3 linked regions of the Homo sapiens genome follow. The protein of the gene in region 2 interacts with the protein of the main gene of each other region in a biochemical or structural test. Each region holds a gene or a part of one and is shown on either strand. Other genes may lie near its edges.

The links. Proteins that work in one complex are often made in the same cells at the same time.
Region 1: of the proteins of USP33 (region 2) and ARRB2, one has a biochemical effect on the other in vitro, tested with the Homo sapiens proteins (2 studies listed by BioGRID, with this or other methods).
Region 3: the proteins of USP33 (region 2) and SELENBP1 form a complex in vitro, tested with the Homo sapiens proteins (one study listed by BioGRID and IntAct).

The regions. Positions count from the first base shown.
Region 1 is NC_000017.11:4,705,951-4,713,632, reverse strand, and holds the start of ARRB2 (beta-arrestin-2), read right to left. Parts: upstream 3,002-7,682; 5' UTR 2,912-3,001; coding exon 2,889-2,911; intron 2,875-2,888; exon of another isoform or gene 2,860-2,874; coding exon of another isoform or gene 2,744-2,859; intron 1-2,743. UniProt on the Homo sapiens protein: Functions in regulating agonist-mediated G-protein coupled receptor (GPCR) signaling by mediating both receptor desensitization and resensitization processes.
Region 2 is NC_000001.11:77,695,487-77,700,881, forward strand, and holds the end of USP33 (ubiquitin carboxyl-terminal hydrolase 33), read right to left. Parts: intron 2,446-5,395; coding exon 2,377-2,445; intron 1,989-2,376; coding exon 1,831-1,988; 3' UTR 501-1,830; downstream 1-500. UniProt on the Homo sapiens protein: Deubiquitinating enzyme involved in various processes such as centrosome duplication, cellular migration and beta-2 adrenergic receptor/ADRB2 recycling.
Region 3 is NC_000001.11:151,363,803-151,369,733, forward strand, and holds the end of SELENBP1 (methanethiol oxidase), read right to left. Parts: coding exon 5,911-5,931; intron 5,753-5,910; coding exon 5,640-5,752; intron 5,388-5,639; coding exon 5,202-5,387; intron 4,518-5,201; coding exon 4,397-4,517; intron 3,374-4,396; exon of another isoform or gene 3,214-3,373; intron 3,103-3,213; coding exon 2,920-3,102; intron 2,652-2,919; coding exon 2,473-2,651; intron 2,045-2,472; coding exon 1,966-2,044; intron 1,883-1,965; coding exon 1,761-1,882; intron 1,480-1,760; coding exon 1,387-1,479; intron 1,243-1,386; coding exon 1,124-1,242; intron 904-1,123; coding exon 741-903; 3' UTR 502-740; downstream 1-501. UniProt on the Homo sapiens protein: Catalyzes the oxidation of methanethiol, an organosulfur compound known to be produced in substantial amounts by gut bacteria. Selenium-binding protein which may be involved in the sensing of reactive xenobiotics in the cytoplasm.

The DNA.
Region 1 (7,682 bases), on a different chromosome or scaffold from region 2:
TTGAAACGGAGTCTCACTCTGTCGCCCAGGCTGGAGTGCAGTGGTGCGATCTCGGCTCACTGCGACCTCTGCCTCCCGGGTTCACGCCATTCTCCTGCCTCAGCCTCCCGAGTAGCTGGGACTACAGGCACCCACCACCACGCCCGGCGAATTTTGGTATTTTTAGTAGAGATGGGGTTTCACTGTGTTAGTCAGGATGGTCTCAATCTCCCGACCTCGTGATCCACCTGTCTCAGCCTCCCAAAGTGCTGGGATTACAGGCGTGAGCCACCACGCCCGGCCGCTAATTTTTATATTTTTAGTATAGATGGGGTTTCCCCATGTTGGCCAGGCTGATCTCAAACTCCTGACCTCTAGTGATCCGCCCGCCTCAGCCTCCCAGAAGGCTGGGATTACAGGCTTGAGTCACTGTGTCTGGCCTGTATTTTGTATTTTTTTAGTAGAGACGAGGTTTCCCCATGTTAGCCAGGCTGATCTCCAACTTCTGACCTCAGGTGATCCACCCGCCTCAGCCTCCCAAAGTGCTGGGATTACAGGCGTGAGCCACCGTGCCCGGCCTTAGGTTGCAGTGAGCTGAGATTGAGCCACTGCACTCCAGCCTGGGTGACAGAGCAAGACTTTGTCTCAAAAAATAAATAAATAAATAAATTAATTAAATTAAATAAAACCACCCAGTGATGGAGCTCCTAATATCTCTGTTTTACAGGTGAGGAAACTGAGGCAGAGAGAGGTCAAGTGTTTCAAGGTCACAGAGGGAGTAAATGGTGGGAATTAATAGAAACCAAGGCAGTCTGGCTCCGAGTCCATCCTCTCGATCAATATTACACTATCTGTCTCTGCAGTTGGCATAAATAGTTTGTTGAATTGAAGGTTATTTGCTTTCCAGTTGCTGAAACAATTTAAGCCTGGACTCCACCCATTGCTGGGAGGGTAAGGAAGTGTTTGGCAACCCCAGTGATCTGGCCAATTGTGGGCCTGTTCTTTGAAGCACCACCTTACTCCTTCCAATCCACTCTGCCTCAGCAGTGATCCCTGGAAAGGATCCTCAGATAGATAGCAGAAACGTGAAATCCTGCCAACTAGCCCATCCCTCTTCCAAGTCTACCACCCCATTCCCAGAGGACCCCAATGGGCAGGTTACCACAGTGTCTGGGTAAGACCTAACCATCTTTCCATCTGGTCTCCAGCTCTGACAGCTGGAGCATATAGGAGAGCAATGACCCTGGCCTTTGGCCCTACATGGTTTCTACCATAGGCCCAGTTTCTGCTACAACTTCACTTGCCCCTTCTTCCCAGAAAGCCAAGCTGTCCAAAGGTTGTAAGGCAAAGGGTATGGAGGGCCCCAGGTATTCCTAACCAATAAAAGAGAATACACATCGATATGGTAGCCGCTAGAATAAACACCCTATCTTTCATCCCAACTTGGGAGCTGAGTGCCGTGGCATCATCCAGGCTCTCCCTCCCCTTTGCTTCTGGTTTTCCTCTTTGTCCCAGGGTGTCCTCCCATTAGGAGCCCTGGCACAGGGCTGTGACAGCCACAATCAGTGGGCCAACTGGAGTGTGGTTCTGGGGCAATTGCCCTGGAGCAGCTGCAAGGCACTTGCCCTTTGGATCCTAACCCAGCCACCTCCTGCCAGGCTGGGGAGGAGCAGCGTGCATATACTAGGCTGGCCAAGGAGGCAGAGTGTGGGGATGACCAGGGAGGTGCCCAGTGGGAGCAGGGGTAGCTGAAGCAGATGTCCTTTCACACTTCCTGCTATTCGCTCCATTTCCTGTGGCCCAGAATTTCATGGGGGTGAGGGAAATTGTGCCAAGTTAGCAGTCTCCTTTGGTCCATCCGTCCCACTCCCTGAACCACATGACGGAAATCAGGGGCCTCCCACAAGTCAGCAACTTCCCCTTTCTCTGGGATGTTTAAACCCTGATCCAGGAGACGGATCATCTCTCTGATGATCTCTTTCTGATGCTCGTCTACTTGATGCTCAGAAACCCGGGTTCTCATACTCTATAGGTTGGAAGTGGGGTTGATATGATGTTTTGCAGAGCAAGCCAGAGCTCAGGACCAATTCCCTATTCCTGATACCCTCTGAGTTGAGGCCTACAGCCCCAACCTTTTCGTCTTTTGCTCCCGCTCCCCTGCGACTCAGGCATCCACCCCTTGCCCCTTGGGGGTGTTGAGTCACAACAGGAAGTGGATTTTGCTAGAGACCAAAAAAGAGAACTCGGGGTATCAGTGGAAGGAAAGAGCCTCGATTGCACAGAAAACATCCGGGGAGTGGACGCGCGCCCAGGGTGAATACTGCCTCCCCCACCCCCAGAGAGAGGGATACGATCTAGTTTCAGGGAGGGTCGCCACGCACTCGGCTCCCCCAAGATGAAGCTGTTGCTCCTGGCAACCCAAGGGAAGGTAGAAGTTTGGGTGAGGAGCCACCCGGCCCTCGGGACAGGTGTGGGCAGCGCGACTACCTGGGGGATATTGGATAGGAGGCTTTCCATTGGCTTGGCGCGAGTCTGGAGTGGATCCCCCCCGTCCCGGCATCCAGCCTCCCCGTACACGACCCCTCGGGGCCAGCCACCTGCTCCTCCTTCCTCCATCCCTGCATCGCAGCCTGCACGGGAGAGCCCAGTAGTCTGGCCCCACATCCCTGCGAGAACCCCGACACCGGTTTTTCTGATCCCCCTCAGGCCTCGCTTTCTGCAGGGGCCCGGGCATTTCCCCCCCACCCTCATTATCCTCGAGGACCTGCGCGTGCGGCCCCGGATGGCTGTCCCTAGGGACCCAGGCGTCCGGCCCCCAGATCCTCTCCGCTGCGCCCTCGTCTGGGACCGTCCCAGCCCCCGCCCCGAGCCGCCGCCCATGCCCCGCCGCGTGGCCCCACCTCCCTTACCTGGTCCCGGGTTTCTCCCCCATGGTGCGCGCGCCCGCCGCCCGCTCGGTTCGCGGCTCGCTCGCAGCCTCCTCGCCCGCTGCCAAGATCCCTGCTCCTCCCCGCGCCAATGCGCACGCGCGCCCTCCGCGCTCTCGCCTCTTCCCCCTCCCTCCCGGCCCCGCTCTGGTCTTGGGGAACCGGGGCCAGATGCGTCAGCCGGATCGCGCGCGCCGCGGCGCTGCCCGCCCTCTCCTAGCAGACACGCGGGGCCATTGGCTCCGCCCCCAGCCCTTCGCGCTCCTTCCCAGCCTGGTAGCCCTCCCCCGCGCGCGGGGCCAGCTCCCACTCCTCCCGCCCATCTCCCCGCCCCGCTGCAACCCCTTGAAACCGATTGGACCCCCCTAAACCAAGGCGCCCGCCTTCCAGGGGATCTAAGTCTTTCGATTGGCCTTCGGCATCCAGAACCTGCAGGGGTCTCCTCCCCTTTGTTTGCTTTCTCAGTGGCGGTGGGGGCGACCGGGCTGCTGGGGGCGGTGGAATGAGCTGAAGCGCCGTCTGGGAAGGAGGATGGTGGGGGGGAACACGTGGGTGAGCGGTTCAATTGCGTGATGCTTGCTTCAGTGCGCGCCGCTCACCTGCTCCACTCGGAGCGTGCCGCCTTCTGTGGCCAGCCCTCCCGCTTCTTCACTGCAGCGTGTCAGCTCCTCCTGGTGTTTGCATTTGATCTTCGCAGGGTTCCCTTTTCCAATGTCTCTGACTATCCATCTCCTTCACCCACCCATCCCAGCTAACATCCACTCACTCACCCGCTCCCATCCATCGGTCCATCTATGGACCCATCCATCCGTGCCTATGTTATGCTATTCACTATGCCAATCGATGGGGACACATACGAATTACCATGGCCCCTGCCTTCCTAGAATAGTTGAGGAGACACATACACAGGTATTACCCAGGAATGCTATTACAGAGGTCTGAGTCAGAAGACACAGCCGCTAACAGCAATTGGCCCGGGCGGGGGTGGAGGGAGTGCAGGCTGTCCAGAGCGGGGAACAGATGAGGACAGTCTTTCTGAAGGATGCGCAGAAGTTTTTTTTCTTTTTCTTGTTTTTTTTTTTTTTTTTGAGACAGAGTCTCACTCTGTCGCCGAGGCTGGAGTGCAGTGGTGAGAGGTGACAGCGTGCTGGCAGCTCTCACTCACTCTCGGCGCCTCCTCGGCCTTGGAACCCACTCTGGCCGCGCTTGAGGAGCCCTTCAGCCCGCCACTGCACTGTGGGAGTTCCTTTCTGGGCTGTCCAAGGCCGGAGCCGGTTCCCTCAGCTTGCGGGGAGGTGTGGAGGGAGAGGCGCGGGCGGGAACCCGGGCTGCGCGCGGTGCTTGCGGGCCAGCGCGAGTTCCGGGTGGGCGTGGGCTCGGCGGCTCCGCACTCGGAGTGGCCGGCCAGCCCCGGGCAGTGAGGGGCTTAGCACCTGGGCCAGCAGCTGCTGTGCTCAATTTTTCGCTGGGCCTTAGCTGCCTTCCCTCGGGGCAGGGCTCGGGACCTGCAGCCCGCCATGCCTGAGCCTCCCCTCCCCCTCCGTGGGCTCCTGTGCGGCCCGAGCCTCTCCGACGAGCACCGCCCCCTGCTCCAAGGCACCCAGTCCCATCGACCACCCAAGGGCTGAGGAGTGCAAGCACATGCGGACTGGCAGGCAGCTCCACCTGCGGCCCCCAAGCGGGATCCACTGGGTGAAGCCAAATGGGCTCCTGAGTCTGGTGGGGACTTGGAGAACCTTTATGTCTAGCTAAGGGATTGTAAATACACCAATCGGCACTCTGTATCTAGCTCAAGGTTTGTAAACACACCAATCAGCACCCTGTGTCTAGCTCAGGGTTTGTGAATGCACCAATCCACACTCTGTATCTAGCTACTCTGGTGGGGACTTGGAGAACCTTTGTGTCTACACTCTGTATCTAGCTAATCTAGTGGGGACGTGGAGAACTTTTGTGTCTAGCTCACGGATTGTAAATGCACCAATCAGCACCCTGCCAAAACAGACCAATCAGCTCTCTGTAAAATGGACCAATCGGCTCTCTGTAAAATGAACCAATCAGCAGGATGTGGGTGGGGCCGATTAGAGAATAAAAGCAGGCTGCCTGAACCGGCAATTGCAATGCACTGGGGTACTCTTCTGTTAGGTAGACCTTTTGTTCTTTTGTTTTTTGCGGTTAAATCTTGCTGCTGCTCCTTTTTTGGGTCTACACTGCCTTTATGAGCTGTAGTACTCGCTGGGAAGGTCTGCAGGTTCACTCCTGAAGCCAGTGAAACCACGAACCCACTAAGAAGAATGAATAACTTCGGAGACACGGCCTTAAGGGGGGTAACACCGCAAAGGCCTGCAGCTTCACTCTTGAGCTAGCGAGACCACGAACCCACCAGAAGGAAGAAACTCTGAACACATCCGAACGTCAGAAGGAACAAACTCCGGATATGCTGCCTTTAAGAACTGTAACACTTGCTGTGAGGGTCCATGGCTTCATTCTTAAAGTCAGTGAGACCCCCTACAAATTCTGGACACTGGTGTTGTGTCGGCTCACTGCAACTTCCATCTCCTGGGTTCCAGCTGTTCTGCCTCAGTCTCCCGGGTAGCTGGGATTACAGGTGTCCACTACCACGCCTCGCTAGTTTATATATATATATTTTAGTAGAGATGGGGTTTCAATATGTTGGCCGGGTTGCTCTTGAACTCCTGACCTCAAATGATCCGCCTGCTTGCGCCTTCCAAAGTGCTGGAATTATAGATGTGAGCCACTGCGCCCAGCCTCTTTTTTTTTTTCTTTTTTAGGAGATGGAGTCTCACTCTGTCACCCTGACTGGAGTGCAGTGGTGGGATCTCGGCTCAACAAAACCCCTGCCTCTTGGGTTCAAGCAATTCTGTGCCTCAGCCTCGTGAGTATCTGGTATTACAGACACCTGCAATGCCTGGCTACTTTTTGTATTTTTAATAGAGACGGGGTTTCACCATGTTGGCCAAGCTGGTCTCGAACGCCTGACCTTGTGTTCCACCTGCCTCAGCCTCCCAAAGTGCTGGAATTGCAGGTGTGAGCCACCGCGCCTGGCTGGGCAGAAGTTGAGAAAGGGCATTTCAAAGAGAGAGACAAGGCACGTCCTGTTGCGTAGTGTTGGTGGGGAAGTCTGGAACAGGCTGTGGAGGATTTTGTATAGCAGATGGAGTGAGATGGAGGGCCCCACAGAAGGACATGTGGAACCAGTACTGGTTTTTAAAGCAGAGGGGGTTGGGTGCAGTGGCTCACGCCTGTAATCCCAGTACTTTGGGAGGCCGAGGGGGGTGGATCACCTGAGGTCAGGAGTTCGAGACCAGTCTGGCTAACATCGTGAAATTTAGCCTATAATCCCAGCTACTCGTGAGGCTGAGCCAGAAGAATCACTTGAACCTGGGAGACGGAGGTTGCAGTGAGCTGAGATCGTGCCGTTATACTCCAGCCTGAGTGAGAATAGTGAAACTTCGTCTCAAAAACAAACGGGCCGCGCGTGGTGGCTCACGCCTGTAATCCCAGCACTTTGGGAGGCTGAGGTGGGCGGATCACGAGGTCAGGAGATCAAGACCATCCTGGCTAACGTGGTGAAACCCTGTCTCCACAAAAAAGTACAAAAAATTAGCCGGCATGGTGGCAGGCGCCTGTAGTCCCAGCTACTTGGGAGGCTGAGGCAGGAGAATGGCCTGAACCTGGGAGGCAGAGCTTGCAGTGAGCCAAGATCGCGCCACTGCACTCCAGCCTGGGTGACAGTGCGAAACTCCATCTCGAGGAAAAAAGAAAACAAAAAACCTCCGAAAAACGAAAAATGAGCCAAATATAGTGGCTAGTGCCTAGAGTCTCATGTACTAGGGAGGCTGAGGTGGGAGGATCGTTTGAGCTGGGAGGTCAAGGCTGCAGTGAGCTGTGATCATGCCACTGCACTCCAGCCTGGGGAAATATTTTTTCAGCACCTTTTATGTACCAGGCACTGTTCTAGGTGATAGGAATAGCATAGTGTAGGAGACAGGAGCCCTTTCATGGAGTTTGTATTTTAGACAAGAGATAGTTAATAAGAAAGCAAATTTCTGGTAATGACATGAATTATAAACAGGCAAATGTGATGGAGGCTGATGGGGGTTGGAGTGGGAGCTACCGAAAAAGAAGTCGTCTCAGGATGGCAAAATGGCGTTAGTTACATAGAATCAAAGGACAGTTTCTCCAGCATAATCAGCAACATGTGCAAAGGTTCGGATGTGAGAATGGGCTTTGCTGGAAAATAGAAGGCTAGCGTGGCTCAAGAATAGGAAGAGAGAAGGAAAAGGGTACTTGTGGTATGTGTTGAGGTCAGGGAGGTGGGTATGAGTCAGATTGGGTGGATTCTTTTAGGCCTCAGTGACGAGATGGGATTTCATTCTCATCACATTTGGAAGCCACAGAGGGGTTGAAGCTAGGAGTGACAACAACTTGTTTACATTTGAAAAGACCACTTTGGTTGCTGTGTGAAGGGACTACAGGGTGCTAAGAGGGAAGCAGAGAGCAACGAAGGCTTTGTAATAGACTAGGTGAGAGTGAATGGTAATTTGGACCGGAGCGGCAGTGGAGATGGAGAAAAATTAACGCTATTGGGTTAATGTATTTTGGAGGCCTTGAATGCCAGGACTTGAAGGATTGGATAGGAGGCAATAAGAGGAAAAACGGGCCAGGTGGGGTGGCTCACACCTGTAATCCCAGGACTTTGGGAGGCTGAGGCCGGCAGATCACTTGAGGTCAGGAGTTTGAGACCAGCCTGGCCAA
Region 2 (5,395 bases):
TTTGAAACCAGCCTGAGCAAAATAGCAAAACCCCATCTCTACCAAAAAAAGAGATAAAAATTAGCCAGTCTCATAACCCAGTCTCAAAATAAATAAAAATTTTAAAATAAACTGGCTGGGCACAGTGGCTCACACCTGTAATCTCAACATTTTCGGAAGCCAAGGCAGGTGGATCACCTGAGGTCAGGAGTTTGAAACTAGCCCAGCCAACATGGTGAAACCCCATCTCTACTAAAAATACAAAAATTAGCTGGGTGTGGTGGCTCATACCTGTAATCCCAGCTACTTGGGAGGCTGAGGCAGGAGAATCACTTGAACCTGGGAGGCGGAGGTTGCAGTGAGCCAAGACTGTGACACTGCATTCCAGCCTGGGAAAGGGTGAGACTCTGTCTCAAAAGAATAGATAAATAAAATAAAATAGGAACAGCAAGAAGGTATTAATATTAACAAACTTTGCACCTTTTACCTTTAACATCTATCAAATAAATTCAACATTCAAGTTTTACATTTTAAAGACATTTTTATTGAGCTAATTTTAACAACATTGCTTTAGCTGGTGACAGCTGCCCCAAACCAAAACAAAGCCATCATGAATGCTATTCAACATCCTCAATGTAATCCAGTATGTTTTTGTACTTGGAATATAGTTAAACTTTTGACATTACATAATCAAGCAAATAGCAGTGCATACTATATTATTCAAAAAGACTTTATCTATTTCATTTAAAAAATCAAGTTGCAAGTGGCCTCAGCTTTATCAACAATCGTAGTGACACATTCCACACTTCATGCTCTCAAAATAAAAAGTGCCCTAAAACTAACTCTAAGTTTTTTAGTCACTGACATTAATACTAACCAGGTTACAGGAATTGAAGTTTAACATTGTACAATATAAGCGGCAATAAGTTACTGATATCTGCTGACAAATTCCACTCAAACTAAATATATCCTTGATACATTCAAAAAGACATTTTGTAAATTTTAATAAGCTAGTTAGTGTATATGCTGCAGTGCAAAAAAAGTGACACCCTAGTTTCCTGAGCTTTAGGAAATTAACAATTTTCTGACTACTACTTTCAACTTAAAATAGGCTCTTTATTATATGAAGCCATGACAAAACTATACAATTAAATTGGGCTTTTGGAGAACTGAAAGACTGGTCAGAGTCAGGGTGATTTAGGACAATGAAAAAGTTTTCAAAGCAAAAGTATTTACAACACTACAAAGGATACTATGGATCTGCATGTAGTGTAAAGATTAAAGATAACCTACTGATTTCACAATTGTCCCTCCTCTTTCAAAAATATTACACTGGGCCAGGCGCTGTGGCTCACACCTGTAATCCCAGCACTTTGGGAGGCCGAGGTGGGTGGATCACCTGAGGTCAGGAGTTTGAGACTAGCCTGGCCAACATGGTGAAACCCCATCTCTACTAAAATACAAAAATTAGCCGGGCATGGTGGCAGGTGCCTGTAATCCCAGCTACTCGAGAGGCTGAGGCAGGAGAATCGCTTGAACCCAGGAGGTGGAGGCTGCAGTGAGCTGAGGTAACACCACAGCACTCCAGCCTGGGTGACAAAGCAAGACTCTGTCTCAAAAAAAAATTACACTGAAAGACTTTATGGTAAGTATTTAAAACTAAATATACCAACCTGTGGTATATTACACATTTTAATATATTCTTCCATAATGCCCACTAAGAAGAAATAAATGGGATAAATGATGAAAAAAAATAAAGCAAATAAACACGCTTTTAGGAATGTTTTCGCATGTGTACATGTCAGGGCACATGAAAATGATTCCTCATTAGAACTCTCTACATCCTAAAAATTACAAAGACCGAGTTTCTACTTCAATTTTTTCTTCTGCTTGAAGTATATCTGGATCAACATGAACAACCGGAGGTCGCAGGATAACTTCAGGCCCTCCACCATAAATAGACTGCAGAAAATTCCATGTTTCTTCAGAAATCTGGCCAGAATCTGCTCCTTAAAATTACGTAGAAGAAATAATGTTTACAAACCTATATATTCATATTGCAAAAGCGTTCATAATGTACCCCCCAGCATGAATCTTCTCGGGATAATTGAGAACTTCTGGAACATGAATCTGCAGACTACCAGCCCATATTGTTATAAGCTGAAACATATGGCTTGTCTTAAAAAGTCAGAGATGCTTTTGCTTTGCTCTTAACAACAGCCTTAAGACCTTTCCTCAGATAAAAAAAAAGTGGCTGCTTTTCATTACTTGCCCTAGTTAATGTATGGATTACATTCTTCAGTTGAATAAAAAAGTACTATAGATGACTAATGATAACATATTTCTAACAGTGACAAATCACTCACAAGTAAAAGCTTAAATACGAGTCAAACTTACCTTGCCTAAGCATCACATTACCACATTTAGTGACTGCAATCTTAGTATTGTCAATAGGACCTGGAGGATCTAAAGGAAAAAATATCAAAATGTATTTTTCAAAGAAATGTAACAAAAAATTGCATAATTTTGTGCTTGACAAAATTGTGACCTATAACTACATTATCAGACTGGTTATTTCTCAGGCAAATTATTATAGTTAATTCTTTTTTTTTTTTTTTGAGATGGAGTCTCGCTCTGTTGCCCAGGCTGGAGTGCAGTGGCACCATCACAGCTCACTGCAACCTCCGCCTTGGGTTCAAGTGATTCTCCTGCCTCAGCCTCCTGAGTAGCTGGGAATACAGGCACACACCACCACGCCCGGCTAATTTTTGCTTTTTTTTTTTTTTTTAGTAGAGATGGGAGTTTCACCATGTTGGTCAGGCTGGTCTCGAACTCCTGACCTCACGATCTACCCACCTCAGCCTCCCAAAGTGCTGGGATTACAGGCGTGAGCCACTACACCTGGCCTATGGTTAATTCTTAATGTCTTCTCCTGAGCTTCTTCGTTTTTAGTTCTTAGTTCCCCCAAAACAGAACCAGGAAAGAAGGTAAGAGAGGCTCGTTCACAACCATCACAGTTTAACAGAAATGTTTTGTTTTTTTTTTTTTTTTTGAGACGGAGTCTCGCTCTGTTGCCAAGGGCTGGAGTGCAGTGGCATCATCTCGGCTCACTGCAAGCTCCGCCTCCCAGGTTCATGCCATTCTCCTGCCTCAGCCTCCCGAGTAGCTGGGACTACAGGCACCCACCACCACGCCCAGCTAATTTTTTGTATTTTTAGTAGAGATGGGGTTTCACCGTGTTAGCCAGGATGGTCTTGATCTCCTGACCTCGTGATCCACCCCCCTCGGCCTCCCAAAGTGCTGGGATGACAGGCATGAGCCACCACGCCCGGCCCAGAAATTATTTTTTAACTCTCCATTTGGGGATTACAAGTCAAAATGTACCACTAATGCTATAAAATAGCAATTCCTTTGTAATTTGAAAGAAATTATACAATTAATTTGCTTCAGATTATCAAAGTAACATTAAGAACAATAAAAGCATTATAAAAGAAACCGTTTAAATACATTCTTTTTAAAATTTAAGGCAAAAGTGAACCGCATGGTCATCATCAAAAGTTGTAAAAGCAACTTAAACAAATTTACAATTAAAAAAACCCAATTAGAAAGTGGACAAAGAACATGAACACTTCTCAAAAGAAGACATTTATGTGGCCAAAAAAACATGAAAAAAAGATCAACATCACTGATCATTAGAGAAACACAAATCAAAACCACAATGAGATACCATGTCACATCAGTCAGAATGCCAGTTATTAAAAAGTCAAGAAACAGGCTGGGCCCAGTGGCTTATGCCTGTAATCCCACCACTTTGGGAGGCCGAGGCAGGTGGCTCACTTGAGATCAGGAGTTTGAGACCAACCTGGCTAACATGGTGAAACCCCATCTCTACTAAAAATAGAAAAATTAGCCAGGCATGACAGCGGCACCTGTAATCCCAGCTACTCAGGACGCTGAGGCAGGACAATCGTCTGAACCCAGGAGGAGGTTGCAATGAGCTGAGATCACGCCACTCCACTCCAGCCTGAGTGACAAAGTGAGCCTCTTTTTCAAAAAAAAGAGAGAGTCAAGAAACAAGAGATGCTGGCGAGGCTGTGGAGAAATGGGAACACTTTTACACTGTTGGTGGGAATGTAAATTAGTTCAACCATTGTGGAAGACAGTGTGGCAATTCCTCAAAGACCTAGAACCAGAAATACCATTTGACCCAGCAATCCCATTACTGGGTATATATCCAAAAGAACACAATTCATTCTATTATAAAGATACATGCACACATATGTTCATGGCAGCACTATTCACAATAGCAAAGATAAGGAATCAACCCAAATGCCCATCTATGATAGACTGGATAAAGAAAATGTGGTAAATATACACTATGGAATACTACGCAGCCATAAAAAGGAAAGAGATCATGTCCTATGCAGGGACATGGATGGAGCTGGAAGCCATTATCCTCAGCAAACTAATGCAAGAACAGAAAACCAAACACTGCATGTTCTCACTTATAAGTGGGGGCTGAACAACAAGAACACAAGGACACAGGGAGGAGAACACACACTAGGGCCTGTTGGTGGGGGTTGAGGGATGAGGGGTGGGAGAACAACAGGAAAAACAGCTAATGCATGCTGGGCTTGATACCTAGGTAATGGGTTGATAGGTGGAGCAAATCGCCATGGCACATGTTTACCTATGTAACAAACCTGCACATCCTGCACATGTATGCTGGAACTTACAAAATAAAAATAAATTTTTTTAAAGGTGTAGAAAAGCCAGATATGGTGGTGTGCACCTATAGTCCCAGCTACTCAGGAGGCTGAAGCAAGAGGATCGCTGGAGCCCAGGAGTTTGAGGCCAGCCTGGACAATACAGAGAGAACTCAGTAATTCAGCACTTTGGGAGGCCAAGGTTGGTGCACTGCTTGAGCCCAGGAGTTCCTGGGCAACACTGTGAGACCATGTCTCTACAAATAATTGTAAAAAATAATTTTTAAATTAGCCAAGTGTGGTAGTACATGCCTGTAGTCCCAACTACTCAGGAGATGGAGGTAGGAGGATCGCATGGGCTGAGAGTTCAGGGCTGCAGTGAGCCATAATCATGCTGCTGTACTTAAACCTGGGCAACAGGGTTAAGACCTTGTCTCTATTAATTTAAAATTTTAAAAAGTAAATACATAAATACAAAAAGCTTTAACTAGGCATATTGTTGCAGCCTTTTTCACATATCAGAATCTTTTTTTTTTTTTTTTTTTTAAAGACAAAGTCTTGCTCTGTCACCCAGGCTGGAGTACAGTGGCATGATCTCAGTTCACTGCAGCCTCCGCCTCGTGGATTCAAGCAATTCTCCTGCCTCAGCCTCCTGAGTAGCTGGGATTACAGGTGACTGCCACCACACCCAGCTAATTTTTGTATTTTTA
Region 3 (5,931 bases), about 74 Mb from region 2:
CATGAGCCAATTAAACCTCTTTTCTTTATAAATTACCCAGTCTCAGGCATTTATAGCAATGCAAGAGCAGCCTGATAAACCTCCCAACAGCTGCGTTCTCCCAGTCGTCTTGCCATCAGTGGAAATATATTACACTATACACAACAGGGATCCTGGGGTCTCCTGTGTGTGAGGGAGCATGTTACATTCTCTTGAGAGTGATGGGTGAGATTTTTAGGTTCATTAAAAGAAAGCATGGGTTAAAAAAAAACCAAAACTTTAGAAACACCGATTTACATTCTCTACCCCCAGGTCTCCTTGTGACGATCACCCCCAAAATTTTCAGATTTTGTCTGGCCATAAAATTGAGATTTGGGCATTATTAGCATCATGTTGGAATCACTGGTGTGAACTAGTTACCATAACCCCCACTGGAGGCCTCTTTAGCCCTTTCTTGTGCATGATACAAAGGGTAGGCAGAAGAAGAGACACAGGCCCTGGGCCCCCAAAGACAAGGCCATCTGAAGGACAGGGTTACGAGTTTATTTCTTGGTGCCTCCAAGAGCTCATGGAAAAGCAGCACAGTGAGCAACAAGCAACAGTGGTCAGTAAATGTATATGACTCAACACATTGCCACAGTCTCAGCTTGGCTGTGTGGTACATGCTGCCAAGGGTCGGGTGCCAAGAGAGAGCAGAATGAAGCCAGGTCCCCAAGGAAGTGAGGGCCCAAAATAGGGAGTGTGGGTGATGAGGGTGGAGTTCAAATCCAGATGTCAGAGCTACAATCGCCCCCAGGGTAGCGGAGCTCATGGGCAAGGGCTGGGCCAAGGGGCTCCTTCCCGAAGTCCACCAGGAAGTTGGGGTTCAACTTCAGCCCTCCTTTTACTGTGTCTACATCAACCTGCAGCATCACAGAGCCTTCCCTGGTGGAAAAGGGAATGGGGTAAGGGAGAGGTCAGAGGTGGCTGCCCCCTTCCCCTAAGATTTTAGGGGAAAGCTCCTGAGGAAGGAGGAATGACCAGGGTCTCAATGGGCCATCTGTGTGGTGGGGTACAGGGGTCTCCTTGAGGAGTCTTCAGAAAGCCAAATGACCCCTCTGGAAGAGGAGGGCTGGGGAGGAGAGCCCATGTGTCTGCTTCTCACCTGATGAGATCAGGGTAAAACTGCTTGTCCCAGGCACTGTACAGCGACGTGGTGATGTAGAGGCGCTTCCCATCCAGGCTGAGCTGGATCATCTGAGGGCCTCCAGCCACCCGTTTTCCCTTGGGAAAACCAGGGGTCAGAGCCCAGGGTAACACACAGATCCTAGGCACCACCCCAACCCCAAGAGTATGCTCAGCTGCTCCCCCACATATTCCTCAAGCATGGGTCTGAGGGGTCCAGCAAGTAGGGGGAGAGGCTCTTACCTTGACCACTAGGGGCTCTGGCTGGGACTTTAGTTCCTCGTCCTCCAGCACTTGCACAGGGCCTCCCTTAACAATGCTGCCTCCGAGGAAGAGCTAGATGGGGAGGTGCAGAGTATAAGGAGGACCATAGTGGGAGGCGCAAACATTGCAGGAAGAGCAGCTTGCCTGGCTGGAACCCCTCTCTCCTTTCAGACATGCTCTGCATGCCCATCCCTGGCCTGGACAGTCCTGGGCCTGTGCTGTCCCACAGCACACATGTCTGCTTTTCCTGCACCTCCCTCAACATCCTGCAGCTGCTTCAGATCATCCACCCCATCCCCAGCTTCTCTTCTCTTTCCTTCCTTCCCTTCTGCTCCTCCTGCCAGGGTCTCCACCTGTCCTGTGAGGCGGGGTCTCTGTGGGTCAGAGATGTCATACTGCCTCAGGTCCCCATGCAGCCAGTTGCTGAAGTAGAGGAAGCGGTCGTCCAGGGAGAGCAGGATGTCGGTGATCAGGCCTGTGGGCAGGGGGCGAGTAGAGCCTTTAAGGACTCTTGTTTCCCAGGCCAAGAATCAACTTTCCTATGCCCTAGGCACTCACCTGGCATTTCGGGCAGCAGCCAGCCCTTCACTTTCTTGGGGGGCACCTGGATCACCTTCTCCACTGACCATGTACCTCCCTACATTGAGGGGTGGAGGGTGAGGTTAGCTGGCAGAGAGGTCAGCCTATCAGAATTGGGGACTAGGGGTTAGATCTGGGTTGCCCAGACCTGGGAGGGAGAGAATAGATGCCCGGCCTTCTTGCCAGCAGGATCTAACTCCATGCAAGCCCCTTGAGGCAGGGGTTGTGTCTGCTTCACCACTGCATTCCCAGAACATAGCACAGTGCCTAGCACAGACATTCACTAAGTAGTTTTTGAATGAATGGATAAATACGGCCAGTTAGGGTTCAGGCAGAAGTTGCCCTAGCACTGAGAGAAGAGAGACAGGGCATGCAGCCTCATTTTTTTCGTTCCTGGAGACGCCTGGGAGCACCGTTACAGAAGCCTGCTTAGGTAGAGCTGCTGACAAGACTACTGGGAGGGGAGGGCCAGAGGGCGTATGTCACCTCGTTCTTGTAGAAGCGCTGGATGGTGGAGCTGAGTGCGCAGCCCACAAAGCCTTGGGCAGCGTCTGGGTTGTGCAGGAAGCGGATCTCCAAGGGAATAAGCCCATCTTTTAGAGACAGGGTCTGCACAATCTCATGGCGCTGCCAGTCCCATACATATAAGTGGCTCCCGTACAGTCCTGGGGTGGGAGTGGGGCCGGAGGATAGGCTCAGCATCAGAGGTTGGAAGGCATGGGCAAAGACTGGGCCACCAATCAGGGCAGAAGGTTAAGAAATGGATTGGAGGGATCAGGAAGACGCTTGAGCAATCTGAGCATGCGGTACATCCTATGCCATCTCTCTTAGATTCTGGGGCCACAGGAGGGAAGTGTGGGGGTGGGAGATTTGGAGCAGAAAGCAAGGGGATGTAGGCCCAAGGCTCCTGCTGGCACATGGGGGGATTCTCACCAGCCTCCACATCAGCGGGGTTGAAGCCATCTCGTAAGACATTGGGAGCTGCCCACTCAGTGCTGATCATGACATTGTGTCGAGGCTGGTACCAGAAGTCATAGCCCAACGGTGCAGCACCCCCAGGTCTCTCCCATGTCCCCTTCACCTCGAACGTCTCCCCATCCAGCAGCACAAAACCCCCTGAACAGGGAAGGAAGCAGGGTGGCAGGTAGAAGCAGTAGAGACACTAACCCCACCCTCCAGCCCTCTCCCCGAGGCATGTCTAAGAGGCTGTAAGCCCATTGCCTCTACCTCCACTGCTGGATTTGCCAGTTCCTTAAATTCAGGCATCCAGGGCTGGGGGAAGAGTGGCTCATGCCAGTAATCCCAGCCCTTTGAGAGGCTGAGGCGGGCGGATCACTTGAGGTCAGGAGTTCAGGATCAGCCTGGCCAACATGGTGAAACTCTGTCTCTATTAAAAATATAAAAAATTACCCAGGCATGGCGTCACATGCCTGTAATCCCAGCTACTCGGGAGGCTGAGGCAGGATAATCTCTTGAACCAGTGAGGCGGAGGTTGGAGTGAGCTGAGATTGCGCCACTGCACTCTAGCCTGGGCAACAGAACGAGACTCCCATCTCAAAAAAAAAAAAAAAAGAGAAAAGAAAAAGAAAAAAGAAAAGAAAAAGTAAATAAAAAATTCAGGCATCCAAAGGGTCTCATCCAGGTATTCAAATTTGGCCAGGTGGCAGGGGGGCCTTTACGCCAGTGCCCCTGTCTCCTGTCTACTTCATCTCTCTCTCAGACCACAGCAGAAACGTTTCTCCCACGAGATCTTCTGGGACTCAGCACCTGGTATTTCTCTTGTCCAGCCTCCCACTTTTGGAGTGGGATTCCTCCCAGAGTCTAAGCTCCATTCTGCTCACTACATTTTTTTGAGAGAGGGTCTCACTCTGACGCCCAAGCTGAAGTGCTGTGGTTCAATCACAGCTCATTGCAGCCTTGACCTCCCTGGGCTCGGGTGATCCTCCTACCTCAGCCTCTTGAGAAGTGGGGGTTATAGGCCTGTACCACCACACCCAGCTAATTTGTGTATTTTTAGTGCAGAGTTGCCAGTGCCAACTCTGTATTATCAGCAGACAACACAGAGATGGGGTTTCACCATGTTGGCCAGGCTGGTTTGGAACTCCTGAGCTCAAGCGATCCGCTGGCCTCGGCCTCTTGAAGTGCTGGGATTAGAGGAGTGAGGCACAACACCTGGCCTGTTTTGACTATAACTTTGAACTGAATTCATCAGTGAAGACTCATCTTAATAGAAATATTCAAAACTGAAGTTACTTGCTAACATTTAAAATACTGGCTGGGATCCAGCTCACTGGTTCTCCTTGGGAAGTCATTCCAACCCTCCCCTTCCATTCTGCTCCTCCCACAGAAAAATGCTTCCCACATTTCACAGCTGTGGAAGTTTTCATGAGCACACAGTGCTGGCAGGTACCTTTGCCATTGCCCTTGACGTCTCCCAGGGAGCTGATCATCACTTCCCCGCTGGCCAGGCAGTGGCTGGTGTGGAGAAAGGCCAGTTCGCACTTGGCATGGATGTCCTTGGGCTCAATGACCTGGAAGGGGTGGGGAATGGTGTCAGAATCATACAGGACTGGGAGTCCCTGCTCTTAACCTCCATACTTCCCCTACTTCTATCTGCTGACTCTGTCATCTTTTCCTTCAAAACATGGACACAACTCTCCCTGTGGGAATATGACAAAGATTCAGTCTGGTAACTTCTACAGAGCAGCAAGGGAAAGTCAGAGAGATTGCTAATAACTCCCCAGGCAGAAAGCGCTGACCTTTCCCCATGTGTCCTGAAGGCACACGCAGCCCTGTGAAACCATAAGCTCCTCCCAGGCTGGCCTACACCAGTGTCAACTCTGTATTACCAGTAGACAACACAGTAAATGCCTGGCACCAAAAGTGCACTAAACAAAGTGTTGGGAGAGACCGGAATTTTTAAGAGAACCCTGAGCTCCTAACTGCATGGGGGAATAAATGGCTCCCTCCCTCTCTCAGAGTAAAACAAGAAGCCTTGTCCCTCTTCTCCCATGCCCTGGTCACCGTGCTGGAGGGTGATGACCCAGAATGCCTGGGTAGACTCTGCTCTGAGGTCCAACCTCCCTCCCTGCTGCCGAGCCAGTTGCCGCGTAAGAGCTGGAGGCTGCTGGTTTAGGTCTGGCTTCCTGCCCGTAGACTACCTGGGGTGGCAGGTGTCTTATGGTCTACTGAGCTGGCAAGGGCAGAGGACATGCCTTGTGCAGCTTTGGGGCCCGGGGCTCAGAGCCCACGTCCACCACATAGATGCGAGAGGAGATGAGACTGGGCAGCACCAGCTTGGTGCGCGACTTGGTGCTATCACCGAAGCAGCTGCTGCAGGTGTTCCATCCTGAGTGATGCAGCTCGTCCTTCAGGTTGGGCATGGGCAGCCGGTGGATGACCTAGGATGCGGGGAGAGGTGGTGCTCCCCCAGGCCACGCCTCTGTCCACTTTTGGAAGAGGCGCCCTGTGGACTCATTTTGGTTTGGAAGCACGGCACAGGCTGGATTTCAGCACTCCCCTTGTCCCAGGTTGAGCGTGCACAAGCATCCCCAGGGAGGGCCAAGAAGGATGGAGCTGGGAAGGGGGGGCCCAGGGCCAGGGATGAGGGCAGCTATGGTCTCAAAGTAGCTGGCGCCCAAGCCCCGCCTAACCTGGCAATACTGGGGAGACTTGGGGTCAACATCCACAGTGGCCAGATAATCTGGGGCCTCAGTGCCTGTGTTTCGGTAAATGCAGGGCAGGTAGACGATCTCTTCCCTGGGTCCTGCACGGTAGAAAGCAGGCAGCAGGGACGGCAGGGTGGGAAGGAAAGGTAGGGGAAGTGCTGGGTGTGCCAGAGGGTGGGGGCTAGGTCTGAAGTCCCTCCACCCCCAGCTGTGGAATCAGTAGTAGGGCGCTGGCTCTCAGACCATGGGCAATTACCTTTCATGGCCTCCAGAGGGG